2 separate regions of the Homo sapiens genome follow, and region 2 is reported to be linked to region 1. The links are microRNA targets in miRTarBase. Many come from high-throughput screens and were not tested one by one. Region 1 holds a microRNA gene; the other region holds the end of a gene's coding sequence.

The links. Region 1 holds the annotated microRNA hsa-miR-548h-3p (CAAAAACCGCAAUUACUUUUGCA, at 2,629-2,651, opposite strand). A microRNA usually pairs through its seed, bases 2 to 8, with sites in the 3' UTR of a target mRNA and lowers its output. Matches are read on the target gene's strand: a 7mer-m8 pairs with bases 2 to 8, a 7mer-A1 pairs with bases 2 to 7 and ends in A, and an 8mer does both.
Region 2: miRTarBase lists UNC93A as a target of hsa-miR-548h-3p. Seed matches in the 3' UTR shown: 7mer-A1 at 715-721.

Annotation. Positions count from the first base shown.
Region 1 is chr8:27,046,243-27,050,392 of GRCh38, forward strand. MIR548H4 (microRNA 548h-4) reads right to left here and starts at 2,721; the gene lies at 2,611-2,721.
Region 2 is chr6:167,315,061-167,319,060 of GRCh38, forward strand. It overlaps UNC93A (unc-93 homolog A), which reads left to right. Exons shown (of 8, transcript NM_018974.4): 8 at 127-954. The coding sequence ends at 392. Among named protein-coding and RNA genes, the nearest start is that of TTLL2, 8.0 kb to the right of the region's middle. RefSeq lists an enhancer at 1,610-2,405.

The DNA.
Region 1 (4,150 bases):
CATCCTGGCTAACACAGTGAAACCCCGTCTCTACTAAAAATACAAAAAATTAGCCTGGCATGGTGGCAGGTGCCTGTAGTCCCAGCTACTCGTGAGGCTGAGGCAGGAGAATGGCGTGAACCTGGGAGGTGGAGCTTGCAGTGAGCCAAGATTGCACCACTGCACTCCAGACTGGGCGACAGAGCGAGACTCTGTCTCAAAAAAAAAGGATCATTTCAGTAGCTGGGAACAGAATAGAGCATAGGTGAACAAAAACAGAAAAAGTGGGGCTGAGTTAGGAGAACATACGTCAGCTTCCTCTGGGTAGCTGTGGAGGTGATGAGAAGCAGTTCAACTTGAGCTGTATTTTTCAAGGAAATGTCAACAGGACTTGCTGAGGACTTAGATGTGGGTTAGAAAATAAGAAAGATAGCACAGATGACTCCAAAGTTTTTGGCCTGAGCAGCTGGAAGAATGGTGTAACTGTTCAATAATAGGAAGCCAAGTGAAGCAGAAATAGATTGGGGAAAGGATTGGAATAGAATAAAGAATTCTAGGGCAGCACAATGGCTCATGCCTGTAATCCCAGCACTTTGGGAGATTGAGGAGGGCAGATGGCTTGAGGAGTCCGAGACTAGCCTGCTCAACATGGCAAGACTCCATCTCTACTAAAAATACAATAGTTAGCCGGGCATGGTGGTGCACACCTGTAATCCCAGCTGCTGAAGTGGCTGAGGCAAGAGAATCGCGTGAGCCCGGGAAGTGGACGCTGCAGTGACCCGAGATTGCGCCACTGCACTCCAGCCTAGATGACAGAGTAAGACCCTGTATCAAAAAAAAAGAAGAAAAAAAAAAGGAGTTCTGTTTTTGATATGTTAAGTTTGAGATGTCTATTGTGTCCAAGTGGAGATGTTCAGGGTGAAATTGTATGGATTGTGTTTTTCATAGCATAGGGATTCTAGAGGACTTAATAGTAAAAGAAGCAGTAGGAAGATCTCAGAGGAGAGGATGAGACTAGAAGGATTCAGTTGGTCAGTGCAACTTATGTCTCACGTTGTGTCTGAGGATGACAAGAGGTGATGCATTGTGGGTAAAGCTGACTATATGGTTATTAAAAGAAAAAAAAAAGTCCAAGAAGTCCTAGTAAATGGAAAAATTTAGGTCTCCCTGGATGAAGTCAGCCATAGCCTGGGTTGATTGTTCTGCTGAAGAGAGCTTAGTCAGGTGGAGAGTGTGGTAAAGGGATAGCCATTACCCCCAAGGCTTCAATACAAGTGGAAAATGCAACAGCTTTAATCCTAAGATTCTTCCTAGATTCACAATATGTGTGTGCCCTGGTCCCAACCCCTCCCTACTCCCCTCATTTGCCCCCAGGCTTCGTGAAAGTGATAGCAGAATCAGCCATGCTGATTCCTCAGCCCAGTGCACTGGATGGAAGTTAATGCCCAAAACTGATTTATCTTCCTTGAGGCTGGGAAAAGGGATGAGTTGGGAAAGCGAACAACTAGAGGTGTTTATGAAGGAGGAACATCTGGGATGCCCGTGGTGGTAACGTGGAGTGCTGCAAAGAGGACTATAGAGAAGGAAGGCAAAATGCTGTTTAGAATCCACAAACGTGGAATCAGTGCATCTCATTTGCTGGCTCTTACCATAAAATGAGCATCAGTATCCCTGCCCTGAGCTTGGGTAGCTTATCAGAGAAGATCGCTGACACTTTTGGAGCCCATCTGAATAGCTCCCTCTGAAGCCATCCAACTTGACCATGATCTGGACTTCCTACTAGACCAGTATTTTGCCTTTGCCTGATCTTTCAACTTCAGCTTCTGCATTTTCTTCTAATTAGCCCTTTCTTACCCCACCAGCACTGCCAAAATGGAGACTTCCTGTCCCAGTCTCAGACCTTGTGGAATTCACACCTCCCCTTTCCATCACCACCTCCCAACCCTGCCACAATATGGACTACCTGTTGTTACGTTGAGAAGATTAAGACTACACAGGCAGTTAGTTTAGGGAACACCTTCTACAGTTGGTGAAATCTATTTTTAAGATCATGAAATGTCATACTACTGCCATATATACTAATTTCCTCCTCCTCCTTTCTCTAAAACTGTCACTCAAGATAAAAGTCAGCTGGGCCGGGCAGGGTGGCTTACGCCTATAACCCCAGGATCTGGGGAGGCCAAGGCTGGCGGATCACCTGAGGTCAGGAGTTTGAGACCAGCCTGGCCAACATGGCAAAACCCCATCTCTACTAAAAATACAAAAATTAGTCAGGCATGGTGGTGCACACCTGTAGTCCCAGCTACTCGAGAGGCTGAGGCTGGAGAATCGCTTGAACCTGGGAGGTGGAGGTTGCAGTGAGCCAAGATCACGCCATTGCACTGTAGCCTGGGCGACAAGAGTGAAACTCCATCTCAAAAAAAAAAAAGGGCAACTGGTGAATGCTGGGAATATGAATATCAGGGCTTGTGCTTGTTATTTTGGGGAATGACAGAAGACAGACCCAGGCAGTGTTTTTTCCCTGCATTCATCCTTTTTTCCTTTTTCTTTATTTCCCATTTATTTTATTTAAGTGTGATTTAGTTTGTACAACATTTATAAGAGGAATGGAAAATAGACAAGAAGTGATGATAGCAAGTATTAGGTTGGTGCAAAAGTAATTGCGGTTTTTGTCATTAATGAAACGTAAAGTAATTAAAGTAATGACAAAAACCGCGATTACTTTTGCACCAACCTAATAGCTTTGGAAATGGAACAACGAAGGATCACAAGTTTGGCTTCAAGTTTTCTGTGGTACACTTGCCACAAAAAGCAGGGGGCAGAGGAAACTTTTGGAGGCGATGGATATGTTTATCATTTTGATTGTGATGATATCATGGGTGTATATGTATACCCAAGCTCATCAAATTGTACACATGAAATACATGTGGGGTTTTTCTGTCTATCAATTTATACTTTGATAAAGCTATTAAAAAGAAAAAGGCAGAAATGAGCTCAAATTTTAAACTGTCTTTATTCTTTCATTGAACAAGCATTTATGAAGGGCCCGCCATGTGCCAGCTCTGTGCGAGATATTGATGTGACTCTGGGAAGGCAAGCATTGTCCCCAACCCTGCACATCTATCAGGGAAAGCAGAAGCAATTGCCATCACGTGCTAGGACAGGGAAGTTTGGCACCATGGAAACGTGTAGCAGGGGCAATCCTGGTGTGGGGGTGGGTCAGGATTGTAATTCCCAAATTGGAGACTGACTCACACAGCTATCAGTGACAGGCAGAACAACCTCCACAGACTTCAGCCAGAGGGGGGAATTAGCCATTTTCTTTTATATCACCGTTTTATTCACACATCAGCATCCCCTCATTCCCATCCACTTATTCCTGAAAGCAGGCCCTTTTTGAGGCTCCAAACATAGTAATTAAACAAAGGGGATTCTAGAAGGTGGACAAAGCATTAGAGACAGCTTCATTGTATATAAATGCCAAATTTTCTGCATCAGTAAGGTTGCAGCTGTGACAAGAATTAGGCTGCTTTCTAGGTCATATATTTTCTAAAGCACTAGGCAAAAAAAATATTAACACATGAGGGGAAAAGAAATAAATAGACTCAATTGTTTTAAAACCTTATGAGTAGACCATTTTTTAATAATACAATGAATACTGCTTATTGAATAAACAAAGAAATTATTTGTTAATATAAAATAGAGCCACATTCTCTGGTTAAATCGTGAATGTGTAAAAAATTAAGTTCTCAATTTAATCTGTTCTGCACAAGATTCTGAATGAAAGATTAATTGGATATAATGACACTGATATTATTTTCTGTATAATAATAATTCTATACATGTTTGGCAATTTATAGTTGTAATTCTATGAATCTGAATTTTTAAAAGTTAACTACAAATAAACAGTCTCTGTAAATGAGATATATGGGGTAGGAGACTGCTTACATGGGTATGGCTAAAGCATAAATTTGAAATAATATCTGATTCATATCAGAATTTATCAGCCTGGGCTGGATAATGTTTAGTCACAGATGAGACACAGATAAGAAAATTAACACCAGATTGGTAATTAAAAGTGCTTCCTGGGTATGAATGACACCTCTGAATGCAGCATGAAATAATTCCTTTTGTATTCTGCTCCACGTTTTCTTTCATCTTGTGTTTGGAC
Region 2 (4,000 bases), not on the chromosome of region 1:
TGTGAAAAAAGAAAAATGTCTTGATTTAGTTGAGAAAATGGGGCAGTGGGAAAGCTGTGCTCTTTTCACAAACAGGGTCACTGTGGGGCCCATGGCAGAGCTCTCACTCCGCTCTCTCCTCTGCAGCTCTCTACGGCGTTCTGTTTGAGAAGAGCAAGGAAGCTGCCTTCGCCAATTACCGCCTGTGGGAGGCCCTGGGCTTCGTCATTGCCTTCGGGTACAGCATGTTTTTGTGCGTGCACGTCAAGCTCTACATTCTGCTGGGGGTCCTGAGCCTGACCATGGTGGCGTATGGGCTTGTGGAGTGCGTGGAGTCCAAGAACCCGATCAGACCCCACGCTCCAGGACAGGTCAACCAGGCAGAGGATGAAGAAATACAAACAAAAATGTGAGAGCAGTGAGGTCCGAGGAGGATGAACTCAGAAAGCACCAGCCAGAGAATTTTCTTAGAAGATGCCTCAGGACATAGAGCGGCTCCTCATCACCATCTCAGCACAATTTGGCCATTCTGAAGAGATCATGTTATTTCACTCTTCATGTATTTTTTTTCTATTCTAACAAATTTTTCGTCCACCATCTTAACAGAGATCAAGTGTATACATGAAGGTATCAGTTCATTTAATTTTAGATGCAAAAGAAAAAGGTCTAACGTACAATCAGCCAATTAGAATTTGCCTGAAATCATAGACTCACCCTAGTTTTATTGCTGTAGTTGTTTTTAAGAATTGGAAGCCTGCTTAAAAAATGTAGTTGAGCCCCATAATTTTACAAATGGGCGAACTTTTAAACTTCTAACTCTACTTGGATCAAAACCTCATACATTTTACAAAGGGGTCCTGACAAGTCAGCTGACTCAACCTCACAGAGTCAGGGGGTGACAAAGCCAGACTGGGGCTCAGGATTCCTGAAACGTGTGGGGTCTGCGTTTCTAAATAAAGACGGTTATTTAATGGACTTACCTCCTGCCCAAGTACTGTTGTGCTAAGTACTCACATAGACACACACACACGCTTCATCACATCAGTGCTTTAGTGTGCTGTGGCCTTCGCAGACCTTCGAGAGCATTTCAGGTGAAGATGCTACATGTGTCTGTTAACATGGAAAATGGTGCCGGGCACGGGTTGGGTGATATTTGCCCATCTCACAGTCATCGTCTTGTCCCTTGGCACCTGGTCTCCTCTCTCCCTTGTTCTTCCTAGCAGCACTGCCGCCTGCCCATCTCCAAGGCTTCTTCCTTGTCCACTGCACTCAGGTCCCCAGGCCCTCCCCAGCCCTCCCCCATTACTAGCACCACCTTGCCCAGCCCCTTCCCGCCTCCCGCTCATCCTCTCCCACAACCCACCCTCCCCGGCCCTACCCCTGCCCCCCCCACCCCTCCCCAGACCCCTTCCTGGCCCCTTTCCTACCCTCCTTGGCACCCCCCCACCCTTCCCCCACTCCCGTGCCCTCCCCACCCCCGCCAACCGCCTTCCCTGCCCCCCCCCACCACCCTCGCTTCCTGGACCTGCCCCGCCCACCCTGGACCCCCCCCCCCACCCCCTCACTCCTGGGACCTCCCTGGCCTGTGGGCCTGGAGCTTGGGATCTCTTTTGTCCTTTAACCCTAAGCTGCTTCCTTCCCCTTCCCTTCCTCTTCCTCCCCCTCCCCTTCCCCTTTGGTTCACACTGAGGCTTCTTCTAGACCTTATGTGTCCTGTCTGTGGCTCTCCCGCTGCATGTTGTTCGTTTATTGTTTCTACGAGCATCTCCTCCTCCTGGAAATTCAGCTTTCCAGTGTCTAGTACACAGCACTAGCAGGTGCTTCATATGTGCAGAAGGAAATGGGCCTCTCTGTGAAATTCCAAATACTTCCTTCACTCACCCTCATTCATTAGGATGCTGGCTGCCTCTGGCCATGGGAGGGGGAGCAAATGCCTCCTGGCCCTGGCCCTTTCTCCTTCTAGTCAGTGTCAGCCAGGTGCCCAGACGGGCGATGATCAAAGGCAGAGAAAAGTGCAGCTGCCACGAGCTAATGCTTCCTGGCCTCTCAAATGTTACCTCTCAAGCTTCCCCACGACGAGCTGGGCATTTTCTCCCAACTGTTAGAATTCCCCTGATAGCCCAGTGTCTCTGACCACCAGCAGCCTTCTTCTTGTTACCCAGGCTCATGTGCCCTTTATGTGCCACTCTGTCCCTGGCCTGGCTGATCAGGGAGGAGGCCCTGCCATTCCTCCCCCAGGCTGCCGATCCTCTGCCTCCATTCCATTCCCTGTCGATCCTCTGCCTCCATTCCATTCCCTGTCGGCTGCTTCCTGGTTCATTGTCCTCCCTGCAGGGCTCCTCTTATCCTCCATCCGGGCTATTGAGAGAGGGATTTCACTAAACACAGGACACTTCACCTCCAGCGCCCATCTAAAGAGCACAGTCTTACCCACTGGCCGGGACAGTCCAGGCCTCCGTGAGTTAATCCCAGCTGCCTCTCTAGCCTTCCGTCCGTTTCACCAGACTTCTCTGTCCAATGCTTCTGTTAAATACCGAGGTCCTTCCCTTATGGGCCCTTCGCTCATGCTGTCCCTGTGTCTCTATCCAAACCACGTTTATCCTCCCAGACCCAGTGGAATGCCGTTAACTCTTTGCAGGCTTCAACCATCTTCCTAAAGCTGGGCCTCTGCACTCTCTAATCCCTGCCCTGCTTTGTCCTCCCCTTTCCTGCCTTGCACCACGGGCTGCCTGGTGCCATCCCTGTCTGTGGGATCCATGGCCGTCTTGCCCAGCGCCATGCCTGTTTGTGGGATCCATGATGGTCTTTGCAGCTCCCACAACAGGGTCATGTCAAAAGGAGTCAAGACTGGCTAGGGTATTTGTGTAGAGGGCGTTCATCGAGGGTAAGGTGACATGTCATGTCCCCTCCATTTGGAGGTTTAGGATTTTGTGAATTGATGATGGGCACTCCTGGTGCTCCTCAGGATAAGTCTTATTTGGAACTGGTCTTTGGTTTCTCAGTCTGCTCAGAGCATTTTGAACCCTGTAGACCCTAAGTCAGTAGGAACTCCTTAGACCTTCGGGGGTAGTGAGGCCTTTGCAGAATGTCTTGGAGACAATGAACTAGGCCTGCTCATGAGGTGTGGGGGGCACTAAGGAGTGAGCCCTGGGCCTAAGGCTGGAGGGGAGGACCCAGAGGTGAGAGGAGTTGGGGAGTGCATGTGCATTTGTCCAAACCAGTGTGCATCTGCGTGGCTCCAGCCGGCCGTTCAGAAGTGAGGTGGAGCAGGGCAGCCTCTCCAAGTGCTCCTGGGACAGAGAGCTTGCTAGTTTAGAAGAGTCCAGTTGGGGTTGCAGGATCATCAGAATTCTGCTCAGAGACTGAGCCATGATCGTGTTCTGCTGATGTTGATGCTTACAGGAAAGTGCCAGACTCTGTGTGACAGGAGCCTGAGCCTCCTCTGAGTCACTGGAGGGGTTCAATTGAGCTCAACGGAGGATCTGTGTGACAGGAGCCTGAGCCTCCTCTGAGTCACTGGAGGGGTTCAATCGAGTTCAACGGAGGGTCTGTGTGACAGGAGCCCGAGCCTCCTCCGAGTCACTGGGGGGGTTCCGTTGAGCTTGACGGAAGGTCTGGTTGTTGGGTGTCCATGTGGAGCGGCCAGCTGGACCTATGAAGATGCCCTCAACACACAGCATTTCCCACTGCTATGCACCTGACCAGCGGCTTGTCTGGACAGCCAGGCTCTCCCTGAAGGTGGCCGGTGGCATTGGGGACTTTTCTGATTTCTTCATCCTTTGCATTTTGGAACTGAAGCATTTGTGGCTGCGCCCAAGTGCCCTGGTGAGAGCCTAGAGAAAGAGCAAACCAGATTCTAATCTCTTCCTGGTCCCGGGGGGAGGGTGTGTGGCTGGGTCCCTGGGTCGTATCGGTATTGCCAGCCCAGCACGTGCTTAGCGGGAAAGTTGAACAGTAACCGGACTTCAAAGCAAATTTTTGGTTTTTCGGGTCTCCAGATAGCATTTATTTCAATCAGATC